Regions from separate parts of the Homo sapiens genome. Here all the other regions are linked to region 3. Evidence: fine-mapped expression QTL. A gene starts in region 3. Each other region holds a variant in brackets. All regions are shown on one strand. Distances are from middle to middle. Region 1 holds the start of TMC6 (transmembrane channel like 6). Region 2 overlaps TMC8 (transmembrane channel like 8). Region 3 holds the start of SYNGR2 (synaptogyrin 2).

The links. PIP is the estimated chance that this variant, and not a neighbour inherited with it, causes the effect.
Region 1: its variant is the best candidate, but not a certain one, in a credible set for the expression of SYNGR2 in whole blood (INTERVAL, PIP 0.84).
Region 2: its variant is the best candidate, but not a certain one, in a credible set for the expression of SYNGR2 in monocytes after LPS (Fairfax 2014, PIP 0.85).

The regions. Positions count from the first base shown.
Region 1 is chr17:78,123,341-78,131,473 of GRCh38, forward strand. It overlaps TMC6 (transmembrane channel like 6), which reads right to left and starts at 5,415. Exons shown (of 20, transcript NM_001127198.5): 1 at 5,272-5,415; 2 at 3,437-3,566; 3 at 3,184-3,308; 4 at 2,937-3,026; 5 at 2,386-2,544; 6 at 1,818-1,923; 7 at 1,549-1,645; 8 at 1,184-1,441; 9 at 649-839. The coding sequence starts at 3,492. TMC8 (transmembrane channel like 8) reads left to right here and starts at 7,431. Exons shown (of 16, transcript NM_152468.5): 1 at 7,431-7,511; 2 at 7,941-8,133. RefSeq lists silencers at 1,449-1,698, 3,529-3,578, 3,629-3,708, 4,979-5,508, 8,119-8,133 and enhancers at 4,049-4,298, 7,509-7,638. The variant A/G (reference allele first, on the strand shown) is at 4,107.
Region 2 is chr17:78,136,770-78,144,935 of GRCh38, forward strand. TMC8 (transmembrane channel like 8) reads left to right here. Exons shown (of 16, transcript NM_152468.5): 10 at 466-589; 11 at 948-1,045; 12 at 1,236-1,419; 13 at 1,580-1,710; 14 at 1,805-1,963; 15 at 2,393-2,471; 16 at 4,065-6,199. The coding sequence ends at 4,343. Among named protein-coding and RNA genes, the nearest start is that of C17orf99, 5.5 kb to the right of the region's middle. RefSeq lists enhancers at 443-1,084, 605-694, 825-874, 1,075-1,184, 1,365-1,534 and 4 more and silencers at 3,848-4,037, 5,559-5,853, 7,122-7,191. The variant C/CA (reference allele first, on the strand shown) is at 3,557.
Region 3 is chr17:78,164,516-78,172,652 of GRCh38, forward strand. It overlaps SYNGR2 (synaptogyrin 2), which reads left to right and starts at 4,066. Exons shown (of 4, transcript NM_004710.7): 1 at 4,066-4,200; 2 at 6,302-6,539; 3 at 6,995-7,134; 4 at 7,224-8,137. The coding sequence starts at 4,102. The coding sequence ends at 7,421. C17orf99 (chromosome 17 open reading frame 99) reads left to right here. Exons shown (of 5, transcript NM_001163075.2): 5 at 1,374-1,782. The coding sequence ends at 1,531. RefSeq lists enhancers at 1-46, 7,358-7,427 and silencers at 3,729-4,338, 4,369-4,528.

The DNA.
Region 1 (8,133 bases), 41 kb before region 3:
GGATGGGTGGATGGATGGATGAATAAATGTGTGGGTGGATGGGTGGATGGATGAACGGATGGGTGGATGAATGGGTGGATAGATAAGGAGGTGGATGGATGTGCGAATGGATGGATGCGTGGATGAATGAGTGGGTGGATGGATGAATGGGTGGATGGGTGGGTTAAACTGAGTGGATGGATGGGTGGGTAGATGGATGAATGGGTGGATGGGTGGGTGGATGGGTGAATGGGTGAATGTGTGAATGGATGGATGGGTGGGTGAATGGATGAATGGGTGGATGGGTGGATGGGTGGGTGAACTGATTGGGTGAATGGGTGGGTAGATGGATGGGTGGGTGAATTGAGTGGGTGGATGGGGGGGTGAATTGAGTGGGTAGATAGGTAGGTGGATGGCTGAATGGGTAAATGGGTGGGTGAATTGAGTGGGTGGATGGGTGGGTGGATGGATGAATGGGTGGATGGGTGGGTAGGTAGATGGATGGGTAGATGGGTGGGTAAGTGGATAGTTGGATAGGTGAGTGGATGAGAGCAGACAGGTAGATGGACAGAAGGAAGAAAGGAAGAGGGAAGAATCAATGAATGGGTCGAAAGATGAATGGATGGATGAGTGGAGCTCGGAGCCTGGGTCATGAGGTGGAGGCATTACCTGTACACCAGGGTGATGCAGGTGATAAAGAAGCTCACGCCCACAGTGGAGAGGTAGGCCAGGGGCATGTTGTAGGGCAGGCCACCCACCCTGGGTGTGCACTGGCTGCCATCCAGGGGGCTGCCACACGGCTGGTTCAGCGTGGCGTTACTGTAGTGGCCGTAGTACATGACGGTGTGGGTGAAGCAACCCTGCCACAGGGAGATCCAGCCGAGTCAGGGACTTTCCCCACGCCCCACCCGACCCTCAGGCCTGACAGCCACAGGGGCAGAGCAGGAGGAGGCCAGGCAGGGGCAGTGAGGGAAACAGGGAGGGGCCTTGGCCACAGCAATCTTGGGCCTCCAGCCCCATGGGAACCCCAGCACGATGAGCATCCAGGGTCATTGAGGGGGAGGCGGGGAGCTGGCTGTGGCCACCTGGAGTCACAGCGGGGCAAGGGTTGGGGGCCCCAGGGGAGCTGGGACAAGAAGGGAACACGGTACCAGGGTAGCAGAAGACAGGCACCCCCCGTCCCCCAGTCCTAGGGCTTCCTCACCGCGCCTGTGAGGAGCTCCAGGCCTGTGCAGACGGGGGCAGGGCCCGGCAGGGCGGGTGGGAAGGCGACCTGAGGGCCCATGATGAAGGCCACCAGCAGCAGCAGCAGGAGGGCATTGAAAGCCAGCAGGGTCTTGAGAAAGAGGAAGTAGGAGAGCACGCTGGAGCCGAACTGGCCCCCGATGCGCTTCAGGGCGTAGCGCCACGGCATCAGGGCCTGCAGGGCGGAGAGCAGCGCCAGGCCCAGGCTGTGCAAGGCCTGCGGGCACAGGCAGAGAGGCCCTGAGGGTGAGGCCGGAGGAGGCACTGAGGCCACCCCAGCCCTGCCCAGCCGCCCCAGCCCCAGGGCAGACCAGGGGCCCATACCAGCACGCAGGCATATCTGAGCCGGCCACAGCAGGAGCAGACCCCGCCGCTGCCCGGCTGGCCCCTCCACTTCCCCCTCGGGGTCCTGCTCTTCTCTCTGGGGACAGAGGCAGCCATAGGTGCCTGGACCAATGAGGGGCCTGACTCTCTCCTTCCTGGAGACCGGCCACCCACGGGCTCAGCCCCTTCTCCCCCACCACCTAGCCCAGCTGAGGAAGTGGGTCTGGGGGCGCAGCAGCGGCGGCATGGTCAGGGTCGGGGCTGCTCACCGCAGGCTGCGTTTCTCAGCCAGGCTTAAGGGCATCCCGCGAAGCATGTGGTCCCGCTGTGCCACTGCCAGGCTCTGGAGCTCCTTCACCAGGAGGCTCTGCTTCTCTGCGAGAGGGAGAGGGAGGTCCTGCCCATCCCCAAGTGCCCCTCCCTGCAGCCCGAAGCCGGGACCCTGGTCAGGCCTGTGTGTCCCTGCGGCACCGTCCCGAGACACCTCGGTGCCCTTATTTGAGCTTCAGTCGCCAATCAGCCGTGTGTTTGCTTCAGTCAGCGACAAGCAGGAAGCTCACAGAGCACAGGGGCCTGTTTCCCACGCACGGTCCCCGACTCGGGGCCCAGGGCCACAGCCCTCCAAGCACTCCAAGGCGCTTGTGAGGTAAGACCCCCACTTCCCTGTCCCCGTGGGTCCCTGCAGAGGGACGGGGGGGCCTTCAGGCAGCCTGCTAAGGGATAGGAGAGGGGCCTCTGGCTCTGCAGCACCCCAGCCACCGCCCAGGCCAGGCTGGCCTCTTGCACCCCACCCCAGGCCGGTGTCCGCCACTGGGGCTCCAGTGCCCACTCACTCACCCTCCTCCTCCAGGGCCGTGGGGTCCAGCTCCAGGTCGTACAGGCGGAGGCTGGGCCAGGCGGAGCGGACAAAGTTCCCGAGCAGGGGCCGGCTGCTCCTGCACCGAAGCTGCACCGTGCGGTTGTAGTACTGGGAGATGATGGCACCTCGGCTGCGGCCTATGGAGGCAGCTGGGCAGGGCCGGGCCGGGCAGGGCCAGGCCTCCCTCCCCTCAGGATGGGCTCACCACAGGCCTCTGCGTCCCTCACCCCTTCCCAGGACCCAGGAAAATCCTTTCAACAAAGACTTCAGGCACCACTGCATTCCGAAAGCCTATTTTTACCCCGTGATGACTCTGGAGTCATTTTTGGAGCCCAGCGAGGGCCACATGGGGCTGTGCTGGGCCCCCAGGCAGCAGATGGGATGGGCTAGGAGCCCGCCCTGGGCCTGGCTCTGAGCTACGGGAGCAGCCACTACCCAGGGAGATGCCTGGCAGGAAGCCCAGCCCAGCCCCAGGGACTGGGGTCAACTCGGGGCCGGGGCCGAGGCCGAGGCTGAGGGTCCCACTCACCAATGGTGCGGCTGGGCATGCTGGCCAGGATGCGGAGTGTGGCCGTGCTCTGGGTGCCCTCGGGCCGCCAGAGTGTCTGCTGGCTACTTCCTACAAAGCAAGAAAGACTCACCAGGGGTCCTGGAGATGCCATTGGCCACAGTATCTCCCACCCCATCCCAGGCCTGCAGAGCTGGGAGGCCCGTCCTGAGGGGCTGGGGCACCCAAGTCTTGGTCCACACCACCCAGCATCCAGGCCTGAGCTCACCTGTCACCTCCCGCTCTCTCTGCTGCAGCTCCAGCCCCTCCTGGGCCGTGCACTGGCTCTGCTCCTGGATGAGCTGCTGGAAGGAGTCGTGCACTTCGCTTTCATCATAGGGGCTGGGGCCCTGGCTGCAGAGGGGGTTGGCGGGGGGGTCAGGCTCCAGCCACCTCTCTCCTTCCAGCAGCCCCTGCTCAGGTGACCTCTCCGTGGGGGGTGGAACATTCCAGCCTCCAGCCCCCAGCCCCAGAGCGCTTACCCCTGGTCCCCTGGGGTCTCAGGGACATCGAGGATGAAGGCCAGTGGCTGGGCCATGTCTCTGGCCAATGCCCGCTAGTCTGCAGACCTAGGGTAGCTCAGAGCCTGGGCGCCACCTCCGGAGCCCCCATCTGATGAGACAGGGGCACAGAGCCAGGGGTGGTCTTCAACGCCTGGCAGCTGTCCACACCACCCATTCCTGGGGGAACCACAGGAGGTGCCACTCACAGCCCAGACAGTCCCGCCCACCCCCCTATCACCCCAGGTACATAAATGGTGAGGCACCGAATAAGCCTCATGCCAGAATGGAATGGGGGGCCCCCTCCAGTGTCAGGGGAGGGGAGAGAGGAAGGAAGGGTGTGGGGTCTGCAGTTCCACATCTGTTTCCTCGATGTCGCCAGTCCCTGGGAAATGGGGAAGAGGTAGGGTGCCTGTAGACACAGCCCCTTTCAGGATCTCCATGCCCAGGGTTCTGGCACAGAGACACCTCCTTTTTGGAGAGAAAGGTCAGAGTAGGCTGTAGGCCTTCTCTGCGTCTGCCCTGTGACCTCAAAGAACTTCCTCTAGCAGGAAATTAGCTGCTGGAGCCCTCACCCCCAACCAGCCCCAGGCGGAAGCAGCACAGGGGGCTCCTCCCCCACACACAGAGGTCACTCCATGCCACCGCCGTC[A/G]GGGCGCCAAGGTCCTCATGTTCTCAGAAGACCCACTGCCCTGCATTCCATCATCCCAGGGCGGCCGGCTGGGGGTGGCCAGGACCTCAACAGGCCTCCTTTGTCCTGGCTCTGCCGTCACCCGGCACAACTGGAACCAGAGCAGCCTTGTCTGGGGCCCTGGGCTCGGGGCCCGTTCATCTGTGAGAGTGGAGCCAGGACTCAGCTCCCAGCCACCAGCGAGTCCTGCCGGCCTCTGCCCTGGACTCCTCCTGCGCTCACCCTCAGGAACTCAGGGCTCAAAGTCGGCCGGGTTGAAGGGCGCTTTCCTCGGACAGGCAAAGCCCGGGGGCGCCCCGACAGAGCAGCTCCTTGCAGGGGTGCCAGTCACAGGACCGGACGGCGCCCTCCCTCAGTGTCCTGGGTGCCATCTTCGGGCCCAGGCCCCACACCACCCCCTCCCTCCAGCAGGAGCAAAGACGTGGGAAAACCAGCCCAGAGCTGGGTCCGAGGCGGCCCCACCCAGCCTAACACGGGACAGCTGCCGAAAGAGGGGCTGAGGACGCCCCACCCAGTCCCTAGAGCTGGAATCCCTTCCTCCAGACAGGCCCTTCTAAGCTCAGGGAACCCGGGGACTCGGGCACCCAGCGCCCCAGCACTCCGCCCCGAGGCCCAGGCAAGTCCAGCGGAGTTTCCAGGCGCACCATTCCTGAGCTAGGTGGGGAGAGGCTGGGTGGCGCCCGTTTCCAGGAACCCCCACCCCAGCCGGCAGCGAGCTTCCCGGGAGCAGCCGCTACCCAGGGAGAACCGCAACCTGGCCCCAGAGCCCAGAGCGGCTGCAACTCTGGGGCCACCGAACCCGTCCAGCCGGCCTCCCTGTCCCCCGCCCCTTCCCATCCCGGCCACACCCCCTCCCCTCCCCTCCCCGTGCCCTGGCGCTCGGCTGGGGGACCTGGGTGGGGGCTGCGGATTTTGCTCCCCGCACTGTCCTCCCCGCCCCTGCCGCTCCCAGCTCTGTCCGAGCCGGAGGGTCAAGCCCTGGGAGCTCCAGGAGCACCCGGGGAGGGAACTCGGCTGCCAAATGGCCCCAGAGGCCGAAAGGAATTCAGGGGGGATTGCCGCTGTCCCCGCATAGGAGAAGCAGCTGGGGCTGGCGGGACCCGGGACCGGGATCGCGGCCGCTCACCTGGGAGGCGCCGGGGAGGAGGGGCCGCGCGCGCAGCCAGGGCTCACCTGTGCCCCGCAAGAGCCGCCGGGAACTGAGGTCTCGGCTCTCCTTGCCAAGGGAGTGGCAAAGGGCCCCAGGGGCGACTGGGCCAGTCGCAGGTCTGCCGGGGCCGGGGGAGTAGCCGCACCTCCCGGCCCACGTGGGCGGGGGGGGGGGGGGCGGGCCTCGGCTATCACGTGACCCGGCCCGGCCCGCGGCGCCCCCGCCCTCCTCCGGGCGCCCCGCGGCGACTATGCCTTCCTCCCCTGCCAACTTCCGACCCCTCCTCCTGAGGTCTGAGCTGGGCTGGATTCATTCCAGCCCCTGGTTGAAGTCCCCAATTTTTCTGACGCTCAGTTTCCCCAAGTTCCAAAAAGGGGCAATATTTCCAGACTCATCTGCTTCCCATGGTTAGGGATCGTCCAAGTAAGATGCCGCCGAAAGCCCCAGGGACACAGAGTATCTCACTCCAGATTGGGCAGCGCCCCCCCCCCCGCCGCCCCCGCAAGCCTCCTGCTGACTCTCCCCGACCCCGGCGGGGGGAGCCTGGTTATCTCCCACTCCTGACACCTGGGCGGGGTTCATTGTTTATCTAGCAAGAGTTCTGGCTCACTTCCTGTGTGCTGTGTGGAGAGGAGGGGATGAAAAGGAGGACACGCTGACACTTAGGTGACTGTCCCCAGGTGCTGTACCCGTTGCCCTGTTTTCTGTTATTCCCCATGAGCCAGGAAGGTATGCACTGATATTCCCATTTCACAGATGAGGAAACTGAGGCTGAGAGAAGTTAATCACCCTTTAGGGTGCCCCCAGCCAAAGCAGGAGACTTAGTGGTCCACCTGGGAACTCTATGGAGGAAACTGCCTTTGAGATTGTACCCCCCACCCCAAGCCCATTTGGAAGGGAGGGTCATTCCTGGCGGGGAGAAGCCATGAAGCAGGCAGGGTGAATGTGAGCTGGGGCCCAGGAGGGCAGGAGAGGGCACTGCTGCAGGGGAGAGCAGGCAAGCAAAAGCGAGGACCAGGCAGGGGTCAAGGCTGGGGCCTTTTGGAGCTGCCAGTGTGGTCCTCAGATGGCTACCCCAAGCTGGTTCTTGGCAAGTGGCACCCTGGCATGGAGACCCAGCCCCTGCCTCTCCTCCCACTGCTTCCCCCTCCCTGCATACCCACACTGAATTTGCATGAATGCCACCTCCTCTGGGGAGCCTCCCCAGATTGAACCCTGGTGGAGCACCTACCACTTCCTATTGACATGTACATCTGTGGTTCTGTGCCCCCTCCTACCCCAGCCCACTGTGTGCCCAGCACCAGCACATAGCTTGCGCCTGACACACAGAAAGGACTCTGGAAACCAGGAAGGAGGTGGGCAGAGAGGCAGAAAAGCTATGAACATTCAGACCTGAGATGACTGGGCCCTATAGCAGGTAGAGAGGGAGCAGAGAGGAAGGGCTGCGGGCTTCCCAGGGGCCCAAGGACAGAGAATTGGCAAAGATATGTCTTAAACATCTAGCCTGGGAGAGCATGAATGGAGCCAATTCCTGAGCACTTACTACCGGCCAGGTGCTAGGCCTGGGTCTTGGCACAACCATAACGCCAATGACAGGGGCTGGAAGTACAGCAGTAACACCAAGAGTATCTGGAAACCCAGCAGCCAGGTTCTGGGGAGCCCACCATCCTGTCATTATCACACCCTCCAGGGTGAGGCCGGCAGATAAAGAGTTTGGCCCCTGTGCCCCCACCGTTCCCATCCCCACCCATGTCAGGCTCCCAGCTCAGGCCTCGAGGTCAAGTCCTGCCTATCCAGGCTGGAAGGAGTTGAACAGAGAGGGCCTCAGCTGCAGGCTGGACATCCCTGGAGGCAGCCAGGCGGCAGACCCGGACCAGTGGACCCTAGGGCTGCAGGAGACCAGGCCCTGACTCCTGTGCAGAGGGGAAGGGTGGGCCACCCGCAGCCCAGCATGCACAGAGCTCCCTGGGAGGCCAAGTGGCCTACGCCTGTCACCTTCACCTCTGCATCTCAGGGGCCCACAGGAAGTGCCTGCTTGGCCTCAGTTTAAAGCAGAGGAAACCATGGGGTGAGAGGGGAGGAGGGAGGTAGTGGAGAGGGAAGCTGGGTTTCCTGTCATATGACCCCTCCTCTGGGCTCCCTCACCACCCTGCCTGGCTTGGCAGGAGTCGTCTGAGAAGGGGACTCCTCCAGGGACTTGGTCCCTAGGTCCCCAGGTGAGCTGGATGTCCAGTGGAGGGAGAATGCAGAGGGTGAGGGGCTGTGGGGGCCAGCTAGAGCCCTGCAAGGGTAGCAGTGGGTCCCTGCTCCTGTCCCCACGGCTGGGGCTGTAGCCACAGGTCCTCATCAGGGGCTCGCGGGGTACCTGGGACTGGAGGCTGGACCACAAGAAGGAAGACAGAAGGGGGTCCCCCGACATCCAGAGTCAGATGTGGCAGATGCCGAGTCCCAGGAACTGTGGGGTTTGGGACACAGGCTCTTCCGGAAGGGCAAACTGCCACGTGGAGAAGAGAGGGAATTGTCTCTCCTTGGGGTGACGGTGGGCCCAGGCACAGGTGGATGCGGGGTGCAGCAGGTCTTGGCTTTCTTTGCCTGTGCCGGTCCAGACTTTCTGTGCCCTTTGGATCTTTCACCCCATTTGACAGATGGGGAGACTGAGGCCGTGGCTGTGTGTCCCTCTGAGAGTTGGAGCGGGGCTGGGCCCGAATTCGACCGCAGCAGGATTCTCTCTCATTTCTGAGCCCCGGAGGTGGCAGAGCGGCAGACCCGGGCAAGTGAACCCTAGGGCTGCAGGAGCCCAGGCCCCGACGCCGGCGCAGAGGGGACGGAAGGGCCCGC
Region 2 (8,166 bases), 28 kb before region 3:
CAGAACCCTTGGCCAGGCGCCGTGGCCCACACCTGTAATCCCAGCACTTTGGGAGGCCAAGGCGGGTGGATCACCTGAGGTCAGGAGTTCGAGACCAGCCTGGCCAACATGGCGAAACCCTGTCTGTACTCAAAATACAAAATTTAGTCAGAAATCGCTTGAACCCAGGAGGCAGAGGTGGCAGTGAGCCGAGGTCACAACACTGAACTCCTGCCTGGGTGACAGAGTGAGACTCGGTCTTGAAACAAAACGAAAACACAGAACCCTTTTTCCCATGAATCGCCTGGAGACTCGGACTCTGAGAACGCACTTTGGACCACATTGCCACAGACAGAGCAGGTTGGAAGGAGGCTGGGCCCAGGACACAACATGATCCCACTCGGACATCAGCCACACCTATAGCCTGGGTAGAGCCCGGTGCCCATGTGCCTGGGCCCCTCCACCTGACAAGGTCCCTGCCCCCAGGTGCGTGGTGCTGAAGCTGGCCAGCTTGGGGATGTTCTCCGTCTCCCTGGGTCAGACCATACTGTGCATTGGCAGAGACAAGAGCAGCTGTGAGTCCTACGGCTACAACGTTTGTGACTATCAGGTGGCTGGCAGCCCGGCGGGGCCTGTCCCTCCCTTCCTTCTCCCCAAAAAGCTCACCTCAAACTGTGCAGAGCCCTGTTCCTGCCCCTTTAGTCACCTTTGAGAGAAGCTGTGAGCAGGGCTGCCTGCACCGCCGCACACCTCCAGGGGGCGCCACTGCTGCCACATGGTGTAGTGTGGCTGCCCTGGCTGTGGGGCTTCCTGCTCTAATCCCATCCTCAAGGCCTGGGTTTCAACCTAACGATTCTATCAGACACCAGGCAAGGCACCTGCACCACAGAAACCCTCACAGGAGGCTAAGGGAAGGAAGGGCCGGGGTGGCCGTGAGTGGTGACGGGTCCCCTTCCCCTGCACCCCAGTGCTGGGAGAACTCCGTGGGGGAGGAGCTGTACAAGCTGAGTATCTTCAACTTCCTCCTCACCGTGGCCTTCGCCTTCCTGGTCACCCTGCCTCGGAGGTGAGCCCCGGGGTGACACCTCCAGAAGGGCGGGGGTGCCGCGAGCATGTTGGGGGTGGCCAGTGGCTACAGCCAAGGGTGAGCGGGTCCAGTGTGGAGCCCGGGAGTAAGTGGCAGGCTGTGGCCATGACCAATACAGCCCACGCATCTGTCTGGAGTGGTGAGTACCTGGACCCTCCCATCCCTGCAGGCTGCTGGTGGACCGGTTCTCAGGCCGGTTCTGGGCCTGGCTGGAACGGGAGGAGTTCCTGGTCCCCAAGAATGTGCTGGACATCGTGGCGGGGCAGACGGTCACCTGGATGGGCCTCTTCTACTGCCCCCTGCTGCCCCTGCTGAATAGCGTCTTCCTCTTCCTCACCTTCTACATCAAGAAGGTGACGGCTCATGGCTGGGGGGTATGGGGTTCGTGCCTCTGGGTGGATGCCTTGAGCTGGGCTCGCCTCCTGCTCCTGCTCCTGCCCCCTTCCCTGGGTGTCAGCCCCCTGGGGTCTGCATAACTCGCTGACTCCTGGTTGCTATTGCTTGCGCCCCCAGTACACCCTCCTGAAGAACTCCAGGGCATCTTCGCGGCCCTTCCGTGCCTCCAGCTCCACCTTCTTCTTCCAGCTAGTGCTCCTCCTGGGCCTGCTTCTGGCTGCAGTGCCCCTGGGCTATGTGGTCAGCAGGTGAGGGGAAGAGGAGGGGGGCACCCAGAGGCTGGCAGGGGCAGTTTCTCACCCAGGACCCTGATGCCAGCCCCACTTGGCCATCTCTCGCCAGCATCCACTCCTCCTGGGACTGCGGCCTCTTCACCAACTACTCAGCACCCTGGCAAGTGGTCCCGGAGCTGGTGGCCCTTGGGCTCCCGCCCATTGGCCAGCGTGCCCTCCACTACCTGGGCTCCCACGCCTTCAGCTTCCCCCTCCTCATCATGCTCAGGTTCTCAGGGCAGCCGGGGCCATGGGAGGGGACACCTGGAGGGGGAGGTCCTTCCTTCCATGGGGGTGGTGAGCCTGTGCACCCCCAACCAGGAGCCAGACGCAGAAAGCCAAGGGAAGCAGGGGCCTCTGAAAAGCAGGAACCTCCTGGGCCCACCCTCTGGGCTGCCATGGGGATTGCAGGATCACTGGGGAAGCACCGTGTCTGGGTGGCTGCAGCTGCTGAGCTATTGGTATTGCTGTGCCAGAGGGGAGGGGATGAGGGGCTCTGCGAGGAAGGAGAGGAGGGTCCCATCCTCAGATACAGCAGTGTGCAGTGAGAAGACCCCAGTACCGCGTATTGTAGAGATTGAGGTGGGGAGAGAGGAAGTCAGGGAGAGGCGCCTGTGGCCCCAGGGGCAACTGACCACGAATCCCCTTCCCACCCAAGCCTTGTCCTGACGGTGTGCGTCTCCCAGACCCAGGCCAATGCCAGGGCCATCCACAGGCTCCGGAAGCAGCTGGTGTGGGTGAGTGTCCTCGGGGCTGGTGAGGGGACAGCAGCTTCAGTGGAAACCCTTCCCTATGTGTGGCCGAGGGCCTAGAACACGTCTGAGCGGGTCAGGTGGGTTCTTCCCACTGGAGGGCGTGGCCTCAGGCTGAGAGTGAAGACGGGGAAGGGGAGGAAGAGAACAGCTCGGGCTCCTGAGACCAGGAGCCAGACCTGGTAAGTACATGACCTTAGGGGCTGGGCCTTTGCCTGTAATCCCAACGCTTTGGAGGCCCAGGCAGGAGGATCGGATCACTTGAAGCCATGAGTTAAAACCAGCCTGGGCAACAAAGCAAGACCCTGGTCTCCACCAAAAATAAGTAATTAATTTTTTAAAAGGAGAATGTGGCCGGGCGTGGTGACTCACGCCTGTAATCCCAGCACTTTCAGAGGCCGAGGTGGGTGGATCACCTGAGGTCAGGAGTTCAAGACCAGCCTGGCCAAAATAGCGAAACCCCGTCTCTACTTAAAAAAAAAAAAAAAAAAAAAAAAACCGGGCACGGTGGTTCGTGCCTGTAATCCAGCACTTTGGGAGGCCGAGGTGAGTGGATTGCCTGAGGTCAGGGGTTCAAGACCAGCCTGGCCAACATAGTGAAACCCCGTCTGTACTAAAAATACAAAAAATTAGCTGGGCGTGATGGTGGGCGCCTGTAATCCCAGCTACTAGGGAGGCTGAGGCAGGAGAATCGTTTAAACTCAGGAGGCGGAGGGGCGGAGGTTGCAGTGAGCTGAGACCGCCCCATTGCACTCCAGCCTGGGCAACAAGAGCAAAACTCCGTCTCAAAAAAGGAAAAAAGGATAACATGGCTGAGTGCAGTGGCTCACGCCGAGGCGTGAAGAGTGCTTGAGTTCAGGAGTTTGAGACCAGGCTGAGCAACATAGCAAGACCTCGTCTCTACTAAAAATCAAATAAATGAGCTGGGCGTGGTGGCGCGTGCCTGTGGTCACAGCTATTCCGGAGGCTGAGGTGGGAAGATCGCTTGAGCCTGAGAGGTCCAGGCTGCAGTGGGCTGTGGTCTTGCTACTGCAATCCTGCCTGGGCAACAGGGAGACACCCAGTTTCCA[C/CA]AAAAAAAAAAAAAAATTACGACTTTAGGCTTGGGGCCAGGGGCTTAATGGAGCTGAGGGAGGAACAGTGACCTGGCTAAGGCGTGGCCTCAGGGTGGGGCCTCTACCGGGGGCGTGGCCTTGGGCTGCTTGGGGACGGACTCTTAGCGGGCGTGGTCTAGATCTGCATGGGGTGGGACCCTAGTGGGGCGTGGTCTCAGGGTGCGTTGGGGGCGGGGCCCTTGGAGGTCGTGGTCTCGGGCGGGGACGTGGAAGGAGTGGCATCTGGCTGCGTTGTGGACGGGACTCCTGAGGGCGTGGTCTAGGGCTGCATCGGGGCGGGACCCTGGTGGGGCGTGGCCCTGGGAGGGTGTGGCCTCGAGCGGGGCGTGGCCTCGGGCGGGGCGTGGCCTCTGGCTACTTTGGGTGCGGGCTGGCCCATGGGCCGCAGAGTTGCTGCCGCTGCTGTCCTCACACCCGCTCGTGGGAAGCAGCGCCTGTCGCAACTCGCCACTTGTTCTCCTCACAGCAGGTTCAGGAGAAGTGGCACCTGGTGGAGGACCTGTCGCGACTGCTGCCGGAGCCAGGCCCGAGCGACTCTCCGGGCCCCAAGTACCCTGCCTCCCAAGCTTCGCGCCCGCAGTCCTTCTGCCCCGGATGCCCATGCCCTGGCTCCCCGGGCCACCAGGCCCCGCGGCCGGGCCCCTCCGTCGTGGATGCCGCGGGACTGCGTTCCCCTTGCCCTGGACAGCACGGTGCCCCGGCCTCCGCCCGCAGATTCCGCTTCCCCAGCGGCGCGGAGCTGTAACCCCTACCCCTGCCTCCCCGAAGCCTCCCTGGGGCCCCTTCAGGCCTCCTTACTCCATCTTCCAGACCCCTGGCGACCACCGCCCCTCTCAGTGGCTCCAGGGCCTCCCTCAGAGGTCCCCAAAGATGGACACACAACCCCAGCGGCAGCAGGAAAAACATATGGGAATTTTCTTTCTATATTTTAATCTCATCCCTTTAAAATGTCTATTTTTTATTGTGTTTTTTATAATATACATAATCTATTAGTATAGTATCTCTTGAATGCGATTTTTTCTAGAATGTGTTCTGCTGATTTGTTTTAGAGCCATGAGTGCAATTTATACACATACATCTATTGGGAATGCTCAGAAGTTGTTTACTGATGGAAGTGCCTTCAGAAGAGTCCGGGAACCACTTCCTAAGGAAGGAAAGAGCTGGCCACAGTTAGAGCAAGCCTGCCTGGGGCCCTGCTCTGTGTTCCAGCTGCAAACTGCCTGCATCATCCCTTCCTGTTACTCTTCCTTCACCTGAGACAGTCGAGGCCACAGCGTCAGCCAGGGCCAGAGCTGGGATTTGAACCCAGGCACTCGGGCTCCAGAGCCACACTGCCCCAGTGTGGGGCTTAGTGGCGGCTCCTGGCCCTGACTGAGGGGCTGACTGAAGCCTGGTGAGAGCGTGCTGGGTCAGCCTCTCCCTGGCGGGAATCCTCTCCGTCCAGTCTTCTAACCTAGCAGCCTCACGTCCACAGAGCTGCCTTGTGAAACTCAGCAGAGCCCTGGCTTCCTGCAGAGCCGTGTTCTCCCAGCCTGCTTCATGGCTCCCTGGTTGAGCCAAGCTTGCGGATCCGTGGGGTGAAGGTACCCGCACCGCCTGGGCCTTAGTGGTATGTACGGGCCTGCATCGTGAGCAGCGGGCGGGGGCCCAGGCAGGTGAGGCAGCTGGCCACAAGGGCAGGGCCCGGCCCCCCTCCCAAGGCTGTGTCTGATATTCTTGAGCCTGTTCGAGTTTCCTTTTCCAAGCCTCCTGTTCTCCCACCCCCACCCCTGCCATGCTGCAGTGACTAAATCTGTGGTTCTCATCCTTGGAGAACACCTGAGTAGCTGCTACAAGCTGGCCACAGCCCAGCGACTCTGATGTGGTTGGGCTGGGTGTGGCCAGCAGCCAGGGCATCGGGACTTTTCGAAGCTCCCAGGTGACTCACCGGCAGCTGGGGATGAGAACTGTCAGGAGGGAAGGTCAGAAGTCCCAGGATGCACTTGAAAAGCCTCTAGCTCCACCAGTGACCAGCTCCTGGCTGGACTCCTGGTCTGGACTCAGCATCAGGGAGGCTCTGGCCTCTCGCCCTCAGGGCTGGGGGCTTCTTCACATGGTCATCAAAGACTTGGCCAGTTCCGCCTCTCCCACGGCCGTCCTTGTCTCACCCAGCATCACGACGCATCAGTTCACCAACAAACACGATTCAGTGCTGCTAGTGCTGGGTCCTGTTCTGGGGGCTGGTGATGAGGCCAAGAGGGAAAGAGGGAGCTCTGTGTTCCATCGAGGGGGCGACAAGCCTGGACCAGATGAAAGTGACTCATGTTGTTAATTAGCGGCTTAGGGCCAAAGGTGGCCCCTGGACCAGTGGCCTCAGCATCACCTGGGAAAAGGTTAGAAATGAACATTCCCAGGCCCCACCTCAGCCTCCTGAATCAGAGCATCCCTTTGGCAAACCATACTGAGAAACAACCACGTGCATCACCAAGCGCTGTGAAGAAGGCAAGCTTTGAGACCTTGAAGGAATCATCAAACTCTGGGCCTCGGTGTGCTCACCCAGGGCGAGACAAAGACGCCATGCTCCTCCAAGTGGCCTCCAAGATTAAATGAGCAATGACTTTTTGTGTGTGTGTTTTTTTTTTTTTTGGGGGGTGGGGACAGAGTCTCTTTCTGTTGCCCAGGCTGGAGTGCAGTGGCAAGATCTTGGCTCACTGCAACCTCTGCCTCACAGGTTCAAGCCATCCTCCTGCCTCAGCCTCCCGAGTAGCTGGGACTACAGGTGCCCGACACCACACCCGGCTAATTTTTTGTATTTTTAGTAGAGATGGGGTTTCACCATGTTGGCCAGGCTGGTCTCTAACTCCTGACCTCAGGTGATCCACCTGCCTCGTCCCCCCAAGGTGCTGAGATTACATGTGTAATCCACCAAACTCGGCCCATACAGTGACTTTTGAAGTGTCCCCATGGGGACCTAGAAGTGCAGTGGCGGCTCCTATTACAATGTGGTCACTGGCCTGAAGGAGCCAAATGGGAGATGATGGGGAGTGGACCTGGGGCCCCCTGTGATCAGGACCACCCAGGAAGACAGCCCAGGGGGCCTCGAGCGATGGGCTTCTTCCCACAGGAGGGCTCTTGGAGCCAGTGACAGGCAGGACCTTGGAGAAAGGGAGGCTTTGGACAGGAGCTGAGGGCAGAGAGGGGGCCTGAGCAAAGATGTGGTAAAGGGGCCACGGTGGAGGCTGGGAAGCTGGAAATCTGAGGCCTCTAGACTGGGATGCAGGGCACACGGGGCCAGTGCGAAGACGGAACCGGTGCTCTGGCAGCGGGTGCCGTGGGCTAGGATGACTTTCTGTAGATGACGGAGCTGGGGGCCATGACCTAACAAGGGGCTCTGCCAGGAGCTTAGAAGTCCTGCCGGGCAGGGAGGGACTCTCTGGGGCTTATTGCAATAGATGCAGTAAAGGTCTCACCAGGTGGGAGAGCCCACCTAGGTGGGGTGTCCCAGCCACCCCCAGCCTTGGGGACTCCTGGGCCCTCCCCTGCCCAGCCCTGAGAGACTGCCCTGTCTTTCTGTGCCCCTGCAACCCCGCTATCCTGGCCAGGGCAGCCCAGAGCAGAGTCCCACCCGCAGGACCTTTCTGGGGACACAGTATGGGGGAGGAAACGCGGAGACGCTGGGAAGAGCATTTGTTACAGAGGACAGTGGCCTCTGCGAGCAAAAATCACAGAACATCAGCCTGAAGCGGGTGGCTAGAGAGCTTTTGGGGGCCCCCAAACTCCACACAGGGTGACCTGGGGGTGACCTTGGAGGCGTGGCTGCTGTGTCCTGGCTTACTCTGCAGTCTGGACAGAGGGGCAGCGCAGCCCAGAGAACTGGTCAGCCAGACCGGTGCACAAGTGATTCCTGGGGGCGGAGGGGTGCAGGAGAGATGTTTGGGTCCCCCAAGGCCTGGGGAAAATGGCCCATGAGTCTGCCTTCGCTCTCTGACCCCAGCTTCCCCACAGACTGGGAAGAGGAAGAGCTCCTCATGAGCTGCCTTAACTCAAGGTTCCCCTGAACACCACCACGTGGAGAAAAAGAGTGAGTTTCCCTGGCCTCCAGGCAAGAGGCTGCCAGCAGCCCAGGGCCTGGGCAGCCAGCCAGCTCCCCAGTGACCTCTGGCTCCCTTCAGTCTTCAGTTCCCTTCCCCACCCGCCTTCAGCAGAAGTGAGAACAGACTTTGGGAAGGGAAGGGAGTTTTACTAAGAAACTAAGAGAAAATGCTCTTGCTCCCCAGCTGGGAGAAACCGAAAACAGAGAGGCCGGTGGGTGCACAGGAGGCAGCCTCCATCCCCGGGACCATGGGTAGCAAGGTGCAGAAACGGACTCATGCCAGCTGGGAGAGGGGGCCACCGAGGGGTCAACAGAGCCAGTCTGCAGTGACCTCCAGGACACCTGCACCTGCCTCCCCACCATCCTTCTGGCCACTCCCTGGTCAGCAGGGCCACTCCCTCAGACCAGCTTCCCAACACACCCAGGCCTCCGGTGCAGCAAGTGCCTGGGAAAGGCTGAGAGGAGAGCTGGGCCGGGGCTGTGAGTGGCCTCCCTT
Region 3 (8,137 bases):
TGGCCCCTGCCTAAAGGAAGCCCAACCCAGCTGCCTCCGCCCCCTCCCAGGAGGGTTGCCCAGGGCACCCACCATCGTGCTGGTTGGCAGCCTTGCCTCCACTGCGGCCATCACCTCCAGGATGCTGGGCTGGACCACGTGGGCCAGGTAGGAAATGGGTGCTCGATGCAGGGAGGAGGGAGAGCTGCTGATGGCCTGAGAGGTCCAACCGGGCCCTGGCTGCAGAGCTCAGGTGGTGGGGCTTGCAGGGCAGGGCTGTGGCCAGGGCAAAGAGCGGCCATCACCGCTTACGCATGACTCGAAGGTGTTTATGAGGACCTACTGTGTGCCATGTGCCTACTGAGGCTTACACATTCAAGGCGTTATCGGACCCTGACCAGTGCTCCCAGGTGCCCTGTAACACAGTCTGCTGGCCTCTGGGAGGGCAGTCTCCTAAGTTCTTTATGGGGTCTGAGCAGGGATTGCAGGGATGATGCCTCCAGGAGACCAAGGTGGACCAGGAGCTCCTGCCTTCTGTGAGAACCACCTTGGGCAGTCTTTCCGAGGTGGTGGCAAGAGCCTGGGGCCCAGCCTCCCAGGGTCCCCTCTCCAAGGCCATGGCTTTACTAACATGTAAAGTGACCAAGGCCTTTGTAGTGTCTGAGTGCAGGCACCACAGGCCTGTGTGCTCTGCCTGTCTGGCTTTGGTGGTGGCCAGCCCTGCCTCTGTGAACTCATCTCTCTTTGTTTGGGAGACACTGCCGTGTCCTGGTTCTCATCCTCTGCCCGTGGCCCAGGCCCTTACGTGGCTCTACCAGGAGTCTGTCCTTGGCACTTTCCCATCTCACTTCTACCAAGTCTGTTCTTTCCAGAAGCCAGACTCGTGGGTGAGCCATGTCACCTCGCCGAGCCTCAGTTTTTCCTTCTGTAAAATGGGGTACAGCCTTCATTTAGTGGGGTGAGTAAGCCTCATGTCTCTTCTGCTGGGGCACTGATGTGCTTGGCACCATAAAACTCCCAGAGGCAGGCCGGGCACAGTGGCTCATGCCTGGAATCTCAGCACTTTGGGAGGCTGAGGCAGGCGAATCACCTGAGGTCAGGAGTTCGAGACCAGCCTGGCCAACATGAAGAAACCCCGTCTCTACTAAAAATACAAAATTAGCCGGGCGTGGTGGTGCGCACCTGTAGTCCCAGCTACTCGGGAGACTGAGGCAGGAGAATCACTTGAACCCAGGAGGTGGAGGTTGCAGTGAGCCGAGATCGTGCCATTGCACTCCAGCCTGGACAAAAAGAGCAAAACTCCGTCTCAAAACAAACGAACACTCTCAGACGCCTCGGGAGGGGATGGCTGGGAGGTGAGCCTGCCTGACTTGAGTCTCCACTGCTTTGTCAAGGTGGTGACCAGAAGATGGAGGACTGGCAGGGTCCCCTGGAGAGCCCCATCCTTGCCTTGCCGCTCTACAGGAGCACCCGCCGTCTGAGTGAAGAGGAGTTTGGGGGGTTCAGGATAGGGAATGGGGAGGTCAGAGGACGCAAAGCAGCAGCCATGTAGAATGAACCGTCCAGAGAGCCAAGCACGGCAGAGGACTGCAGGCCATCAGCGTGCACTGTTCGTATTTGGAGTTCATGCAAAATGAGTGTGTTTTAGCTGCTCTTGCCACAAAAAAAAAAAAAAAAAAAAAAGGGTAACTATGAGAGATGGTGGATATGTTAACTTGCTTCGCTATAGGAACCTTTGTGCTATCTATATTATCTATATGAATCCCATCATATCAGGTTGTCTACCTTAAATATACACAAAAACATTTATTTAAAAAAAAGAAAAAAGCCTGCCAGCTGGGATTCTTGGAGTGCTGGTGGCCTTCAGCAAACACAGACACTGTTGGTGTGAGGGCTTCAGGAGGGTCACAGAAATAAGGGGGTCTGTGTGGCCCTGTCCTCGCCTCTCAGGTGCTGTCACATCTCTCTGGGTGTAGGGAGAGGGAGGGGGGCACACTGCGAAAAGGCCCAGCCCCTCCCCCCCACCTGCTCCCCTCTTCCCTGGAGAGGCACCCCACCTCCTGGTGGCCCAGTCCTATGGTTCAACTCTCACGTGGTCCAGCTCACCTGGGTTGACTGTGAGCCCCACCTGGCACACCTGCTGTTGTTAATCTGCACCTGCAACTAGCAAAGGGGGGTCTGGAATTCTTCCGGGTTCAGTCAGCCTGTGATCCCACACCTCTGTCTGTACAACCTCCGCTCCCCACTCCAACACACACAGAGCCTGCCCCAGCCTACCCTGCACCAGACCCTCTGTACCGGTTTTTCTTGGGATGGAGGTAGAGAGGGACGGAGGCGAGAGGGGGCTGAACTGGAACTGGATTAAACTTTGCCATCTGCCTGTCGCCCTGAAAACTTCATTTCTGTTTGCATGCCATATATATATTTTTTTATATGTGGTCTTTTCTTTTTTTTTTTTTTTGAGATGGAGTCTCGCTCTGTCGCAATGGTGCAATCTCGGCTCACTGCAACCTCCGCCTCCCGGGTTCAAGCGATTCTCCTGCCTCAGCCTGCCAAGTAGCTGGGACTACAGGCACGCGCCACCATGCCCAGCTAATTTTTGTATTTTTAGTGGAGACGGGGTTTCACCATGTTGGCCAGGGTGTTCTCGATCTCCTGACCTCGTGATCCGCCTGCTTCAGCCTCCCAAAGTGCTGGAATTACAGGCGTGAGCCACCACGCCCGGCCGATATGTGGTCTTACTCTGTCACCCAGGCTGGGGTGCAAAGGCGTGATCTTGGTTCACTGCAAACTCCGCCTCCTGGGCTCAGACAATTCTCCCACCTCAGCCTCTGGAATAGCTGGGACTGCTAGTAGCTGCCACCACGCCTCGCTAACTTTCGTTTTTGGTTTTGTTTGTTTGTTTGTTTGTTTGTTTGTTTTGTTTGTTTTGAGATGGACTCTTGCTCTGTTGCCCAGGCTGGGGTGTAGTGGCTCGATCTCAGCACACGGCCACCTCTGCCTACCGGTTTCAAGCAATTATCCTGCCTCAGCCTCCCAAGTAGCTGGGATTACAGGCGCTTACCACAACGCCCAGCTAATTTTTTTGTTGTTGTTGTATTTTTAGTAGAGACGGGGTTTCACCATGTTGGCCAGGCTGGTCTCAAACTCCTGACCTCAGGTGATCCAACCGCCTCGGCCTCCCAAAGTGCTGGGATTACAGGTGTGAGCCACTGCGCCCGGCCTTGCACACCATCTTTTTTTTTTTTTTTTTTTTTTTTTTTGACACAGAGTTTTGCTCTTGTTGCCCAGGCTGGAGTGCAATGGCACAATCTCGGCTCACCGCAACCTCCACCTCCCAGGTTCAAGCGATTCTCCTGCCTCAGCCTCCCGAGTAGCTGGGATTACAGGCATGCACCACCACACCAGGCTAATTTTTGTATTTTTAGTAGAGACGGGGTTTCTCCATGTTGGTCAGGCTGGTCTCGAACTCCTGACCTCAGGTGATCCAACCGCCTCGGCCTCCCAAAGTGCTGGGATTACAGGTGTGAGCCACCGCTCCCGGCCTTGCACACCATCTTAAGTGTGACGCCACACTGCCCTTCACAGCCTTGGGGCTCTGCCCAGACCAGGAGGAATGGGGAGGGGGTCTTTGACCCTACCCCAGGCTTAGCCCCAGAGAGGAGGAAAGAGTGGCAGGCCAGGCAGGGAGGGGCTCCAGGGTGTGGCCTGGGTTTTTCAGTGGGATGGGGGAGGGGTTGCTTATGAGCCTGGGTGGGTTCTTGGTAGGTGGTGGGCTTCCTAGAGGAGGCGGTGGGAGGGCAGGGGCAAAGAGGGTGAGCGGTCCTCAGTTCGTCCGTCTTCCCGGGGGACTCTCTGACCCTTTCTGGTCCGTGCTGCGGCCGGCGTGGCCCGGAGACTAGCCCCTCAACCCCGAGGTGGGGTGGACCCGGGTGCTCCGCGGCCACAGCCCCTCCCCGCCTCTAGAAGCGCAGTCCCGCGGCTCGCCCGCCGCTCGCGAGGGCCGCACTTTGCCCTCGGTCCCTAGCGGCGCCTGGCCACGCCCCCGGCGGGTGGAGTCGGGCGGGGCGCCGGGCAGGTTCCTCTGCGTTCCGCGGCGGCGGCAGCGGCGGCGACGGCGACATGGAGAGCGGGGCCTACGGCGCGGCCAAGGCGGGCGGCTCCTTCGACCTGCGGCGCTTCCTGACGCAGCCGCAGGTGGTGGCGCGCGCCGTGTGCTTGGTGAGCCCGGGGAGGGCGGGCCGAGGGCACCCTGGGGACCCCCTCTCCGTCGCCAGGCCCGGCGGGGCCCCTAGCCCACGAGCGCGACAGGTGGCGGCGGCCGCGTCCGGGGCCTGGCGGCGAGCGGGGCCGGCGTCCAGCGTCCCGGGCCCCGCCTTCCCGCCCTCCACAGTCTGTCCCGCTGTCCCCTCCCGGTCCCGGGTCCCGCCACCCACCCCACCCCCAGCCTCGCGCCCCGACGCGGGGTGTCCGGATCTCCGCAGGGAGCGGGCCCCTGCCTCGCTGGCAGTGGGAGGAGTTTGGGGGCGGCTCCCGGACAGGTGGCCCGCACGCCGCGACTCCCAGATTGGGGAGTTCACCGGGACGGGGTTTTCCGAAGCCACGTGGGGTAAGGGAGGGGGCGGGGGGCGACCCAACGCCCGGAAACAGGGTGTCCTTCCCACTCGGGGCAGGCCACGGGTCCGCCTTCCCACCCGAAGTTGAGGGACCCCAAGATGTACCCCCTCCCTGTAAGGTGGGCAATACCTCCAAAACCAGGTTTTGTGTGTGTGTGTGTGTGGCGGGGAGGGGGCCTGTTCTTGGACAGCCAGCCCTGAAAGCTGGAGGGGGTGGCATGAGGGGGCAGGCAGAGGTGGGCCTGCTGTGCCCAGACCATGCCTGGGCCTGGAGCTTCTGAGGTCCTCCAGGGCGCCCACACCAGCTCCCAGCCAGGCTGTGGGATCTGATCGCCTCTGTCCTGGGCTGTGTCCAAGAATCAGGTGCCCAGTGGGTCGGGATGGCAGTGCCAGGAGTCCTGGATGGGCACCCTGCTCCCATCATCCCGGAGATCCGGCTTCATCTCCATCTGGGGGCGGGGCCTGTGACTGCCAGCTCCAGAGCCCTATGGAGAGCTCCCTGGGACAACAGGGCAGGACTGGCAGGGGAGAGTCCTGGGGCCATCCCAGAGGGATCCTGATGCTCACAGACCTGTCCCACACCTGCTGAGGTGGAGCAGGCGTGGGTGGTGGCCTTCAAGTTTAGGGAGGTGGTATGGGGCTCTTCCCAAGGGGCTGGAGCTCCCCTACATCCACCCTGGGTCCTCCAGGTGTCTGAGTTCAGAGCTGTATCCACAGGCCTGAGTTAGTCCCCTTGTAGTGCCCTGTGCATGCAGGGCCCTCTGTGGGGTGGGAGACAGACTGGGAGGGACCAGGATGCCACAGAGGCTGCAAGTCCTTGTGTGGAGACAGCTGGCCAGGCTGAACCAGGGAGGGTTCCAGGGGTTCCAGGAGGTGAAGACACAGGGGCGCCAGCATGGCCTTCCCAAGAGGGCCTGTCCACCTTCACCAAGGTGTTCAGGCAGAGGCTGGGTGCTGTAGAAGTGACTTGGGCTGAAGGTGACGGGGGATGGGTAGTCTTTGTGACTTGGCCTGTCTTGGTTAAACCTCTTTCAAGGTGAGGTTGGGCTGGGGATGGAAGGACTGCCCTTCATCCATCAGGTACCTAAGCAGAATGATTCCTGCAGCAGGCCGATGGGGCAGGAGCAGCCCCTGCCTAGGAGGTCCCTGCCCATTCCCCACCCCTCCCCGGTCCAGGATTCCCAGGGGCAGGCCCCCTGGTGCCTGCAGATTCTCATCCTGGGGTGCATCAGGAAGCACTTTGCTCATCAGCTCACCTCCACAAGTTTGGAGGGGCTAAGATGTCAGCCTCCAAAAGGGGACAGCAGGCTGGGCGAGGTGGCTCATGCCTGTAATCCCAGCACTTTGGGAGGCCGAGGAGGGTGGATCACCTGAGGTCAGGAGTTCCAGACCAGCCTGGCCAACATGGTGAAACCCTATCTCTACTAAAAATACGGGTGTGGTGGAGGGCACCTGTAATCCCAGCTACTAGGGAGGCTGAGGCAGAATTGCTTGAACCCAGGAGGCAGAGGATGCAGTGAGCCGAGATCGCACTATTGCACTCCAGCCTGGGCAACAAGAGCAAGACTCCATCTCAAACAACAACAAAAACCCAAAAGGGGACAGCAGTAGTGGGAGAGGCCAGCATCTGTACACCCCATCAGGGTCCCCGCTGTGTGTGCCCCTCAGGCGGCCACCAGCCCTACCAGGTCCTCCCCTCCCGGCAGGTCTTCGCCTTGATCGTGTTCTCCTGCATCTATGGTGAGGGCTACAGCAATGCCCACGAGTCTAAGCAGATGTACTGCGTGTTCAACCGCAACGAGGATGCCTGCCGCTATGGCAGTGCCATCGGGGTGCTGGCCTTCCTGGCCTCGGCCTTCTTCTTGGTGGTCGACGCGTATTTCCCCCAGATCAGCAACGCCACTGACCGCAAGTACCTGGTCATTGGTGACCTGCTCTTCTCAGGTATCTGCCTGTGGCACCTCCATTTGATCTTGGGGGAGGCATTAACTCTAGGGTTCCGCAGCTGGGAGGGTCTCGGCCTCTCTGGGAGGGGCAGGGAGCAGCTCACTCCTCCAGGGCATTTTTAGGAAAGGGTTTTCAGCTAGTGTTTTTCCGTGCTTGAATGGCACCAGCCCTGCCTGGGGTAGCTAGAAGCTGAGTGGACCTGCAGCACACCCGAGCAGATGGGCTTTGCCTCTGCCCCTTTTGTCCCCTAGGCTGTCTGCTGTGGCCCACCCTGCCAAGGCCCGAGTGTGGGGGACTTTGGAGGTGGCTCCCGGCCCGGCTTCCAAGTCCTCCCCTCCATAGTGTGGAGGCTCCCCCGGGAGGTCCCTGCCCTACCTGCCCGCGTCCCCTCCCAGAGTCCTGGAAAGCCCCTCCCTTTCCATGGAACTGACGCTTCACCCGTCCTCCCCCAGCTCTCTGGACCTTCCTGTGGTTTGTTGGTTTCTGCTTCCTCACCAACCAGTGGGCAGTCACCAACCCGAAGGACGTGCTGGTGGGGGCCGACTCTGTGAGGGCAGCCATCACCTTCAGCTTCTTTTCCATCTTCTCCTGGGTAGGATGGCCAGGGGCCGGTTCTTGGGTCAAGGGTGGTGGAGGGTGGGGTCCCCCACCCACCTGTACCCTGCTGTGCTCCCCCTGCAGGGTGTGCTGGCCTCCCTGGCCTACCAGCGCTACAAGGCTGGCGTGGACGACTTCATCCAGAATTACGTTGACCCCACTCCGGACCCCAACACTGCCTACGCCTCCTACCCAGGTGCATCTGTGGACAACTACCAACAGCCACCCTTCACCCAGAACGCGGAGACCACCGAGGGCTACCAGCCGCCCCCTGTGTACTGAGCGGCGGTTAGCGTGGGAAGGGGGACAGAGAGGGCCCTCCCCTCTGCCCTGGACTTTCCCATGAGCCTCCTGGAACTGCCAGCCCCTCTCTTTCACCTGTTCCATCCTGTGCAGCTGACACACAGCTAAGGAGCCTCATAGCCTGGCGGGGGCTGGCAGAGCCACACCCCAAGTGCCTGTGCCCAGAGGGCTTCAGTCAGCCGCTCACTCCTCCAGGGCACTTTTAGGAAAGGGTTTTTAGCTAGTGTTTTTCCTCGCTTTTAATGACCTCAGCCCCGCCTGCAGTGGCTAGAAGCCAGCAGGTGCCCATGTGCTACTGACAAGTGCCTCAGCTTCCCCCCGGCCCGGGTCAGGCCGTGGGAGCCGCTATTATCTGCGTTCTCTGCCAAAGACTCGTGGGGGCCATCACACCTGCCCTGTGCAGCGGAGCCGGACCAGGCTCTTGTGTCCTCACTCAGGTTTGCTTCCCCTGTGCCCACTGCTGTATGATCTGGGGGCCACCACCCTGTGCCGGTGGCCTCTGGGCTGCCTCCCGTGGTGTGAGGGCGGGGCTGGTGCTCATGGCACTTCCTCCTTGCTCCCACCCCTGGCAGCAGGGAAGGGCTTTGCCTGACAACACCCAGCTTTATGTAAATATTCTGCAGTTGTTACTTAGGAAGCCTGGGGAGGGCAGGGGTGCCCCATGGCTCCCAGACTCTGTCTGTGCCGAGTGTATT